Homo sapiens: one gene and its partners. The protein of the gene in region 1 purifies or fractionates together with the protein of each later gene. This does not show direct contact. Each region holds a gene or a part of one and is shown on either strand. Other genes may lie near its edges.

Region 1 (3,650 bases):
GACGGAAGAGAGGCTGAGCTGAACAAGAGTGTCCTGGTTCTGTGGTTTTGTTAATGAACAGCTTCTCTGACAACCCCATCCAATTTTCCCTGACCACAGGAACATATGGAAAATGCAGAGAGAACCCTGACACCGTTCAGTAAATATTTCTGGTCAGCTTACTCTTTTTTAAATGTGAGCTTAAATCACATAGAACTTCAACCTAAATTTATCTTCTTTTAAGACCATGTGCCTCTGAAGAGAGAGCAGATGCAGGGGAATGGGACATTGCTGTCATCACTGTGTACTCACATCCTTATTCCTGCGCATTCAGAGAAGACCAGAATATTCCCTCTGGGGGCACACACTGCATCTTGTTCATGATTGTATCCCTAGCACTGAGCATAATTTCTGGTGCAGAGTGGGTGCTTATTAAATGTTGAGAGAAATAAGTGAGAACAAACATAAATATTTTCCTCTATGATCTCTTCTCCTTGTCCTACCCTGCATCGTCTTTGGAAACACAACCATAAGGCAGCCAGTCTCTGAGCCTTTCAGGAACATTAGTGAATTTCCATATAAGGTACAGATACATATTGCTAAAAGTTTCCATGTAGCCCAGATGTTCCTTTTAAGGAACATTAAACAACAAATAAGTCCTTTTAAATTGCCTGCCTCCTCCCCGACCTGATTTCTCATTTCCTCCAAGGTCGTCCACGTGTGGACACTCGGCCCCAATGGCCTCTGGCCTCAGCGACCTGGGGCTGCAATACCATCTGGTTTCCTTCCCATACTGGTGCTTGGAGGAGGGAAGGCATCCCAAATGTTCGTGTCACCTTCAAATATGTGTGTTCCCATTTCTTTTCTTCTTTCTCTGTATCTTCTTCACTTTCCTGTGGATCCCACACATAAGAAATCGCAATTATAGATTCTTATTTTTGCCTCTAAGCTGAGCATAGCAATAGAATACATTTTACAGTACATCCCATACCACTAAACATTACTTGGTCAATGCATGCTAAAGCTATAATGACAAATTAGAGCAGGCAACCTGTGGTCCTAAACTCCATAGGACTCTCCAGGGGCTCAGGTTTGGCATTCAAAACCATATTTTATTTTTCTTTTACCTTCCACTGAAGGGAAGAGGCCTTCTGAACAACTCTGGAAAAATTGGAAAGCCCCAAGAGTTTTAGATTAAAGACACACAAATCAAATGCACTGCCCACACCTAGGCGGGCTTGAAATGCTGCCCAGGTGGGAAAGGTTTTTTTTTTGTCATTTTTCATTGGCCGCTGCTTCATTCTGGATGGAGAATGGAAGAGCCCCCACTGCTCTAAGATGAAATTGGCCCGAAAGCACTGATTTCATGTTAACTACACATCCAAAGATACCTTACGTGTTGTGCCATTTACTAAATGTGTTATACATCTATTCATTTGTTTAATAAGTGCTTATTGAGTGGCAGTGATATGCTAGACATTGTTCTAGGCACTCAAAGATAGAAGACCTAGCAAAATAAACACAGGAGATGGAGAGAGACTCAGACAGGAAACAACTAAACACATAAAGACACGACATTGCACACCACCAGGCCGTAGGGTAGGAGGGGAAAGGGTGTGCTGATGGGCAATAGGCAGGGAGGGCCTCGATGGGAAGGTGACAGTTAAGTACAGCCTCAAAGGAAGTGAGGGAACAAACCATGAACAAACTCATTCTTTCCATGAGGGAAGAATGTTCTAGAAAGAGGGACTGGCCAGTGTGAAGGGCCTGAGGCAGGCGGGCCTGAAGGACAGCAAGCAGGGCTGTGTGCGTGGAGTGGAGTGAGAGAGATGTGGTCAGAGGGGTGATGGAGGCTGGGACGTGTGGGGTGTGACAGCCGCTTTAAAGACTTTGAGTGAAAGGGGACCTCTTGGAGGAAGGGAAGTAACTTTTGTTTTAAAAGCCCCCACAGCTGCAAAGGGGAGAAGTTACTGTAAGGAGGGCAAGAGGAGAGCAGGGAGGTCAGTTAGGAGGTGGTGGTAACAGCTCAGGTGAGTGCAGATGGGGACCTAGAGACCACAGGGGGCCGTCAGGGTGAGGACAGGCTCTATGAGAGTGAGGCCAACAGGCTCTGCTGATGGGTCGATGTGGGGGTAAAAGAAAGAAAGGAGGCCAGCAGTGGCTCATGCCTGTAATCCCAGCACTTTGAGAGACCGAGGTAGGTTGATCGCTTGAGCCCAGGAGTTTGAGACCAGCCTGCACAAACACAGCAAGACCCCATATCTATTTTCTAAATAAAATTATTTATTTTTTAAAAAAAGAGAGAAGTCAGGGGTGACTTTACATTTTTGGCTTGAGCAGTTGGAAGAAAAGAGTTGCCACTGACGGAGCTGCCTCGTGGAATATTCATGACAGCCTGTGAGAGAGGGCAGGGCTCAGGCATGCTTCAGATGAGAACACGGGGCCAGAAAAGGTGCCTGAGCTGCCCAAAGTCCCAAGGCTAGTGAGGGGCAGGACCAGGCCTCTGGCTCCGGCTGTATTCGTTTTCCATTGCTACTGTAACAAAAGCCCCCAGACCCAGTGGCTTTGGACAAGATGAATTAATTATCATGCAGTTCTGGAGAAGTCCCACATCAGTCTCGATAGACTAAAACCTAGGTGTGGACAGGGCTATGTTCCTTTCAGGGGCTCTGGAGGTGCGGCTGACCAGCCCTGAGATCTGAGCACAATCTTCCTGTGGTCCAGTTTTATCCTCTGGAAAATGAGAATAATGACCCCCATTCCCCGAGGGTTTTGGGGGAATTTGCACAAGACAACAGCTTTGAGAAATTGTTGACACTACTCACGTTAGTGGGCAGGGTGAATGGGCCCACTGGTCAGCACCAGGAGCCAACTTTGGTGTGCCCAGGAGGCCTCTGCTGAGGGAGCTGTTTGGCCGGGCGAGGTGGCTCATGCCTGTAATCCCAGCACTTTGGGAGGCCGAGGCAGGCGGATCACCTGAGGTCGGGAGTTCAAGACCAACCTGGCCAACACGGTGAAACCCCATCTCTACTAAAAATACAAAAATTAGCCGGGTGTGGTGGCGGGCACCTGTTATTCCAGCTACTCAGGAGGCTGAGGCAGGAGAATCGCTTGAACCCAGGAGGTAGAGGTTGCAGTGAGCTGAGATAGCGCCACTGCACTCCAGCCTGGGCAATAGACCGAGGCTCCGTCATAAAAAACAAAAACAAACAAAACAAACAAACAAACAAATCAAAACAAACAAACAAAAAAACTAAGGGAGCTGTGTGTTTTGGTTGCAGCCCGATGGAGAATCCAAGGTGCCCAAGGAGGCCCCTGGCGGAGAAGAAAGCCAGGTCTCTGGACAGGCCGCAGGCCCCCGGGAAAGGCTCGGAGTCGTGGGACTGCCATTGGCTCTCCCTGCCCACTGCCCCCTCCAGGAAGGCGCTTCACTGGACGACCAGTGATTGGGCCAGACATTCAGACAGCCCAGCTCCATCTGCAGAGGCTCACTGCACCACCGCTGCAGCCCCCACTCCCGAGGAGACCGGAGATTTTCTCCCCAGCGAGCAGAGGCCTTCGCAAGACACCAAGAAGGGGTGGCTGAAGACCATGCTGAACTTCTTCGTGAGGACGGGCCCTGAGGAGCCCAGAGAAAAGGCCAGCAGGAGGCCAAGGGGGAAGGAGGGTAT
Region 2 (4,391 bases), on another chromosome or scaffold:
TATAGGTGAGAACCACCACGCCTGGCTGCAGAAAGTTCTAATAGGCAGAACCACTAAGAACAATAGAAATGACTGTACTATAGCTAGTGCAATGACAGGGTCAGATAAGGGTCCTCTGAAATTAGAAAAGGCTTCCTTGTGGCCGGGCATGGTGGCTCATGCCTGTAATTCCAGCACTTTGGGAGGCCAACGCAGGCAGATCACCTGAGGTCGGGAGTTCAAGACCAGCCTGACCAACATGGAGAAACTGTCTCTACTAAAAAAAATACAAAATTAGCCGGGTATGTTGGCACATGCCTGTAATCCTACCTACTCTGGAGGCTGAGGCAGGAGAATCACTTGAACCCGGGAGGCAGAGGTTGTGGTGAGCTGAGATCGCACCATTGCACTCCAGCCTGGGCAACAAGAGCGAAACTCCATCTCAAAAAAAAAAAAAAAGAAAAGAAAAGGCTTCCTTGGATGCTAAGTCTTGAAGGCTAGAAAGTCAACTGGTCAACTGTCAGGTTGATGTAGGGAGGAGAATCTGGTGTGCATTTATTTATTATTTATATTTCACCAAAAAACACATAAACTCACTGGTGTGTATTTTAAAAAGAGGTCACAGACTGAGTGCGGTGACTCATGCCTGTAATCCCAGTGCTTTGGGTGGCTGGCCGAAGCAGGAGGATCACTTGAGGCCAGGAGTTCAAGACCAGCCAGGGCAACAAAGTGAGACCCTGAGTGTTGGTGCATGCCTGGAGTCAGCTACTTGGGAGACTAAAGTGGGAGGATCACTTGAGCCCAGGAGTTTGAGGCTGCAGTGAGCTATGATTGCACCACTGCACTCCGGCCGGGAGGACAGAGTGAGACTTTGTCTCTAAATAAATAAAGAATAAAATAAACAAGTCACAGCATAAGCAAACACACTGGCAGAAAATTCCTGGGTATATTTGAGAATTGTCTAGTTTGGTGGAAGTGAAGGGTCTGTAGAGGGAATCAGAGGGAGAGAAGGCTGGAGAGATCAATAGGAGTGAGATTTTGATTGGCTTTGAATACCAATTTAAGGAATATGGATTTAATTTGGTGACAGTGAAGAGCCACTGAAGATTTAAGGAGTAAACTAGCATGATCATTTTTAGATCACACTGGCTGCAGTGTGGAGGAGGGACTGGAGGTAAAATTACAGCAAGGAGGTTATTACAGTAATCCAAGTGAGAAATGGTGGCCTGGACCACAGCATAGATGGGTGGAATACAAGGGAATGGATTTGGGAGATTCAGTAGACAGTCTTATAGGTCTTGGTGGCTGATTGGATGTGGGGGTAGGGAGGTGAGAGGTAGGAGCCTAGGGTGACTGGCAGGGCTGCAGTTGGCTTTGTTCAGTACAAAAGCTCCTAATACCCAGGTCTACTCAACTTGCCAGATAGGCATTCTCACTCTCCCACACACCTGCCATCCACTGAAACGGTGTCTCAAAGAGTTAAAGGTCGATCTGCAACAAATAGCTTTTGTTTTCTCAAAAACCCAGTGTCATAATATTAGCTTCCAGCACATCAGGCATCAAGCCCTTTTACTTGGTAACACCACACCACTATCTCCACACCTTTACTCAAGCTTTTTCTGATATTTGGGATGTACATAACCCTCCTTCCTTCCAATCTATCTTTTCATATATAGCTCAATTCCATTTTTTCTGGCAAGACCAGTCTCAAGCTAGACCCAACCTACTTCTCCCTCTATATCCTCTCCCAGGACTGCTGTGAGCCACTCAGCAGAAGGAATGGGAAGTGGGTAGTCTCTTAAGCATCAGGCAAAGGGCTCAAGCTGAGCTGATTTAGCTTTGTAACTTAACTGCTCAGTGCACAGGGCACTGATGTGGGGAAATGTAACCGTGTAAATGGGGGTCGGGGTGCGGTGCTGAGACTGCTGTGCCAGGCAAGTGTACAAAGTTTCATTACCCAGCCCAGCACTGATGACTGGAAATATCATGAATTATCCTTCTGTTGGTAGAGGGAACAAACCAGCCAATTGTTTGCCTGTTCATCACCAGGAATGCCCTTCCTTCCTCAGCTGACCTAAATGATAGCTATGCAAACCTTCTAGGCTTTGCCCTCTCCTAAATCCTTTAGGAAGTTCCAAGGTGACTTTGCCTCACAGGTCCCTTTCTTCTTGTAAATTATATAGGTGACAATCTGAGCCACACACGCTACAGGTCATATGGTGTCTCCCGTTAACGAATCCGGCATTATATGGTGGCAAAAGGTTAAACATGCGACAACTTTTTTTTTTTTTTTTTTTTTTGACACGGAGTTTCGCTCTTTGTTGCTCAGGCTGGACTGCAATGGCGCAATCTCGGCTCACTGCAACCTCCGTCTCATGGGTTCAAGCAATTGTCCTGCCTCAGCCTCCCGAGTAGCTGGGATTACAGGCATGCACCACCACGCCCGGCTAATTTTATATTTTTAGTAGAGATGGGGTTTCACCATGTTGGCCAGGCTGGTCTCGAACTCCTCACCTCAGGTGATCCGCCCGCCTCGGCCTCCCAAAGTGCTGGGATTACAGGCGTGAGCCACCATGCCCGGCCTCGACCACTACCTTTTTAACCCAAGCCCCCACTGAAACTCTGTCCCTGTTGTCACATGGACACTGGGCTGCAGGAACCCAGGAGGATCAGAGGCTCCCGAGGCCTCACGCCAGTTGCAACGAAGCCAATCATATATTTCGCCCTAGAACAGCAGGAGGGATAAACTAACCTGGAAGGGGTAAACCTCGAAGCCAAAAGGACATAGCGTGTCCTCGATCTTCTGCTTCAGCTCTGCGACTTTCGGCTCCATAGCGCACGTTACACGCTGAGCTTGCTGGGGAATGAAGTCTCAAGGACAATTGGGCCGTTACGTTTTGAGTCAGCTTCGACTCCATTTCCCAGGTAGGAAATGGGTCCAGTAGCGGGACCATATTGCCTATGCGCGATGCATCTTGGGATGCGTAGTTCGTTTCCTCCTTGGAGACAGCCACACGAAATCAGGAAGACTCAGTTTCCCGGCAAGCTACACGGTGGGGGTGTGCATGTACGTGTCTCTTCTAGAGAAAGGTAGTTCCACCGCCTCCATCGCCGGTTGTGTTCGCAAGAGGCGACCTCAGTTTCCCAGGTGGCGCTGCGGCAGCCAGTCCAAAGTCGGACTTTCAAAACCAACCCGAAGTTTTGAACCCGGCGGCGGCAGTTGTCACTGGCACAGGTTTGGCGTGGTGGCGCCAGTGTACTACTTCTGGGGAGGTCTCAACCAGGTTCTGGCACCTTCAATCCCCACCTGATATCTGCGTATCATCACGGTATCCCGCTTTTCCCCCAGTTCCCCAAGAGCGTCCTTCCTTTCCCTAGTCACAGGATCGCAGTTTTGGTCTGATAGTGCATCCACCTACCCCAGTGTTGCATCCCCACTTCCCTCTTTCCATCTAACGTGGTGGCCTTTCCTGGGGATACCTTGGGTATCCCCCGCTAGGAGAGCAAGCACAAGACACCAGGGAGCCAGACCCCTGCCGCTCCCCTGCCACAGGATATGAATACGAGCCTCAGCTGGTTTGAGCAGCTGGATGTGCTTCTCAACGCTACTGATGGAAATGTGGTCCGGAATAAGGTGAGGGGTTGGTGGAGGTCCCCAGTTTGCGTGGGGAGGCTAAGGGACTCTCAGAGTTCATTGGCCTGTGCATCTGTTTCTTTTGTAGCAGTGGCTGTATCCTCTTGGGGTCTCCACAGAGCTCATTGGCCTGTGCATCTGTTTCTTCTGTAGCAGTGGCTGTATCTTCTTGGGGTCTCCACCGCAGGTAAGTAATGTCTCTTTCTACTTCCAAGCCCTTTCTCTTTCTGTGCCTTCCTCCAGTGCCCGTATCATCCATTATTCCTTCCAAATTCCAACTCTGTCCTTTCCTGAACTCTGTTTCCCCACACAGACCCTGCACTTAACCCTTCCTTATTTCCTCAGCCGGGGACCTGGCTGGGACCTGGATTTCCTCTCATCACTTGCCTCTGCAGTCAGGAGTCCAAGCTCAACAGCCTTGGGCTTTAGAGACTCCCATAGTTCCACAAAGGCTGAGCTGCCCTGAGTCCTAGAGCCCATCCTCTCTCTGGGGTGAGGTTGCTATTCTCTGATCCTAATTTCAATGTCAGGCTCAGGTGAGGCTTGGAATCCTTGGTGTGTATATGTGATGTTTGTGTAAGATGAGGATACTAGGGGTCGGGAAAAGCTGTTATACAGTAGTTCATGTGCTTTTTTCTGCCTGGGGAGGTGACAGGCACTAAGGCAGGCAGTGCAGGGCCTGCTAGAAGAGCGAGAGCAGCAGAAGTACCAGATCAGTGTCCTGGAAGGTATCTGGCCAGTTATTTTCTTCATATACACAGCTTCATATGTATGCACA
Region 3 (3,650 bases), on another chromosome or scaffold:
TTATATTTTATTATTTTATTTTATGAGACAGGGTCTCGCTATGTTGGCTAGGTTGGTCACAAACTTCCTGGCCTCAAGCAGTCCTCCTGCCTCGGCCTCCCAAAGTACTGGGATTACAGGCATAAGCCACTGTGCCTGGCCTAAACTCAAACATTATTAAGAAAGATTTCATAAATGTAAGACACCCCTATGATATTATTATACTTTGACATTAAAATACATAAGAGATACCTAATAGAATTATAGAAAAGAAGGGATTCTGTGGGCCAGGTGCTCACTGGGAGGTTACCTTGTGCTTCTCCATGCACCACTCCCTTTACAAGTAGGCCAGCTAGAGCCAGGGGCAACAGCAGAGCAACATGACAATGTCATGATGTCAATGTCTTTAGTCAGCCATGCTGCTGAGCCTGACAACAGACCAATATGTGCCCTTCATGCTCTGGACAGCCAGGCCAAACCCGCTCTCATCTTTTGCCTACCAGGAAAAAACATCAACCTACTTTTGTTGGAAGAGATTAAATAAGGCAAATCTTGTAAGAAAGGAAGATTGCTACCAGCAGTTTTAAAATAGTCTTTCTCTTCATTTCCCCTAGTTTTCAAATAACTTCCTCACAAGTTTGTTCAGATGAAAATGCTTTTAAAGTGCTTAAGTTCTTGGCAGTTTTAACCTTACCATTCACTGCATTTATTAACAAACGTGTATACTTGAATCCTGGCTTTCCTGGCTACCCTAAAAGGGAGTGGATAAACAACTTATATGCCTTAGCAATCCCACTTTTAGGAATCGATCTTACAGGAATAAAAGCACCAATATAAAAATGTATTATGACATTGTTTATAACAGCAAAACTACTAAATTATGAAATATCCACACTGCTGAATATTATATGGCTATTAAAATTAATGTTAGACATGAAGTTGGACCCTTAACTTACACCATATACAAAAATTAACTCAAAAAACCAAAGATCTTAATGTAAGACCTGAAACCATAAAACTCTTAGGATAAAACATAAGGGAAAAGCTTCATGACCTCGGATTTGGCAATGATTTCTTCGATCTGATACCAAAAGCACAGGGAACCAGGGAACCAAAGAAACAAATAGATCAATTGGACTACATCAATTAAAAACTTCCATGCATCAAATAACACAATCAACAGAGTGAAAAGGTAACCCATGAAATGGAAGATAATATTTGCAAATCATCTGTCTGATAAGGGGTGAATATCCAGGATGTAGAAACAATTCCTACAACTCAACAAAAAAAGCCCCAAACAACCTAATTAAAAAATAACGGACTTGAACAGACATTTCTCCAAAGATATACAAATGGCCAATAAGCACACAAAAAAGATGCTCAGCATCACTAATCATTAGGGAAATGCAAATCAAAACTACAAGGAGATACCACTTCACACTCATTAAAATTATTATAAAACATATCAGAAAATAACAGGTGTTGGCAAGGATGTAGAACAACTGGAACTCTTGTGCACTTTTGGTGGGAATGTAAAATGGTGCAGCTGCTAAGGAAGGCAGTATGGTGGTTCCTCAAAAAATGAAAAAAAATTACCACAAGACCCAGCAATTCCATATATACCATTTTTGTATATATATAAAAAAATGGAAAGCAGGGTCTTGAGCAGATGCATTTCCAACTTCAAAAAGGAAGGAAATTCTGACACATGCTGCAACATGGATGAACCTTGAGGGCATTCTGTTAAGTGAAATATGCCAGTCACAAAAGGACAAGTACTGTATGATTCCACCTATATCAAGCATCTAGAGTAGTTCACAGAGACAGAAAGTAGAATGCTGATTGCCCAGGGTCAGGGGGAGGGTAGAACGGGGAGTGTGTTGAATGGGTACCATTTCAGTTTTGCAAGATGAAGAGTTCTGGAGATGGATGGTGTTGATAGCAGCACAACAATGTAAATGTACTTAATGCCACTGAACTATATTTTTGAAGATGACTTAGATGGCAAATTTGATGTTATATGTATTTTATCACAATTAAAAATAAACTTTAAAAAGTTAGATCTATTTATTGCCTAGAGAGGTAGCCATTAATATATTATCAAATAAAAAAAGCAAAAGGCAGCTAATACCTGTAAGTAGTGCAGTCTCATTTTTTAAGCCTACACCAAAGAACCCTGTGTGCATGAACTCCTGCAGATGTCTGTTCAGGCACAGTAAAGCACAGGACAAAGGACATAACTCAAGTTATTCAGTGCTAGGACTGGAAGAAAGGAGGAGAGGCTATTTTCATCATCATCTTCAAATACCTCAGTACTGCTAGAATATGCCAGTGAACTTTTTAATTTTTACAGTTAAAAAAACAGAAAAACAATACATACCCATTCCTGCTGCTATAACTGGCACAGGCAAATCATAATTGTATAGAAGAAAAGACAACATGAGGAAGTCAATGTAACTTCGATGACTAGGCAGCAGAACAACAGGATGCTCCTGGATGGCTCTTTGTAGCTTGAAAGTAAATGTTACATTTTGAATAATTTCAGTTGTCATGTTATCAAATCACATCTCAAATCAGAAAACGGAAGAATAAGTCTATATTTAGAGGGAATACCCATCCTCTTTTTCTGCCTTTTTGCCATACACATAAACGATTTGCTCTGATAAGGTAAAAGTACTGTTTCTAGTTAAACAATTTCACATAATGCAAGAATATTAAAAATGTAAATTTTTATGGATCAGAATAATAACAGTGATGATCGCTAACATATATTAGTTGGGCACTATATTAGCATCATTTTATATACAGTTATCTTACGTGCTTTGTTTAATACCACATAATTAACAAGGTCTAAGCCTTAGCTTTCTTGTTTGTAAAATGGTCATGCATCCAATAAATGGCAGAGCTGTGAATGGAACCCAAGTCAGTCTGACTTAAAAAGCCAACTGTTAACCACTGTATTGAATTGGTTGGTTGTAGTAAGAGAAAACAAAGCTTCTCTTGGAGAGATTAAAAAAAATCTACAAATTCATAGGACAAGGTGAGAAGAATGGTATTTCTCTATGTGCTGGACTCACTGCCAGGGTGAATGGGTGTCATGTGGCTGGGAGGGATAATTTGAGTTTCCAAATATACTCCTCAGGCCATCAATCTCAAGATTCACTGGTATCCATGTGTTATCTGTTTTTTTGAAATCTAAATGTAACAGAGGCCAGGTAATCTGTGATCATCACTTAAGAAATGGCTCACCACCACCCTTGGTCCCAAACACTGTAACATTCTCTGACAGATTCAGGGTATAAGTCAGCAATCTCGAAAACAGTCAGTAGGAAGAAGAAATATTTGACAGGAAAGTAAATGACTGAATTAAAACAAAATATTAAAAGGGATGAGGAGGAAGGCAAGTGAAGTTAAGAGCTTTCCTAGAAGAAAAAAATATAAAACACAAATAAGTAAAAATACTCTTCATAAGGAAAGCTCTTTATGAAATTAGAAAAGTCATCATTTGGCAATCATTAACATAATAATTAATTCAGGCAAAAATCATCAGTGGGTGCAAAAACGAGTGGGGTAAAGTATGATGCAAAACAGGGTATTTAGCCATTTTCAAAGAGTCTTTTCACAAGATATTCATTAATTATAAAGGGAAAAAATAATAACTTTACAGCAGA

The links.
Region 2: the proteins of BNIP5 (region 1) and MMACHC purify together in Homo sapiens (affinity purification with mass spectrometry; one large-scale study listed by BioGRID and IntAct). This does not show direct contact.
Region 3: the proteins of BNIP5 (region 1) and GNPAT purify together in Homo sapiens (affinity purification with mass spectrometry; one large-scale study listed by BioGRID and IntAct). This does not show direct contact.

What each region holds. Positions count from the first base shown.
Region 1 is NC_000006.12:36,330,305-36,333,954, reverse strand, and holds part of BNIP5 (protein BNIP5), read left to right. Parts: intron 1-3,260; 5' UTR 3,261-3,264; coding exon 3,265-3,650.
Region 2 is NC_000001.11:45,498,754-45,503,144, reverse strand, and holds the start of MMACHC (cyanocobalamin reductase / alkylcobalamin dealkylase), read right to left. Parts: upstream 2,846-4,391; 5' UTR 2,813-2,845; coding exon 2,732-2,812; intron 1-2,731. Other genes in the region: transmembrane protein CCDC163, read left to right, coding at 3,536-3,613, 3,702-3,800. UniProt on the Homo sapiens protein: Cobalamin (vitamin B12) cytosolic chaperone that catalyzes the reductive decyanation of cyanocob(III)alamin (cyanocobalamin, CNCbl) to yield cob(II)alamin and cyanide, using FAD or FMN as cofactors and NADPH as cosubstrate.
Region 3 is NC_000001.11:231,261,562-231,265,211, reverse strand, and holds part of GNPAT (dihydroxyacetone phosphate acyltransferase), read right to left. Parts: intron 2,490-3,650; coding exon 2,360-2,489; intron 1-2,359. UniProt on the Homo sapiens protein: Dihydroxyacetonephosphate acyltransferase catalyzing the first step in the biosynthesis of plasmalogens, a subset of phospholipids that differ from other glycerolipids by having an alkyl chain attached through a vinyl ether linkage at the sn-1 position of the glycerol backbone, and which unique physical properties have an impact on various aspects of cell signaling and membrane biology.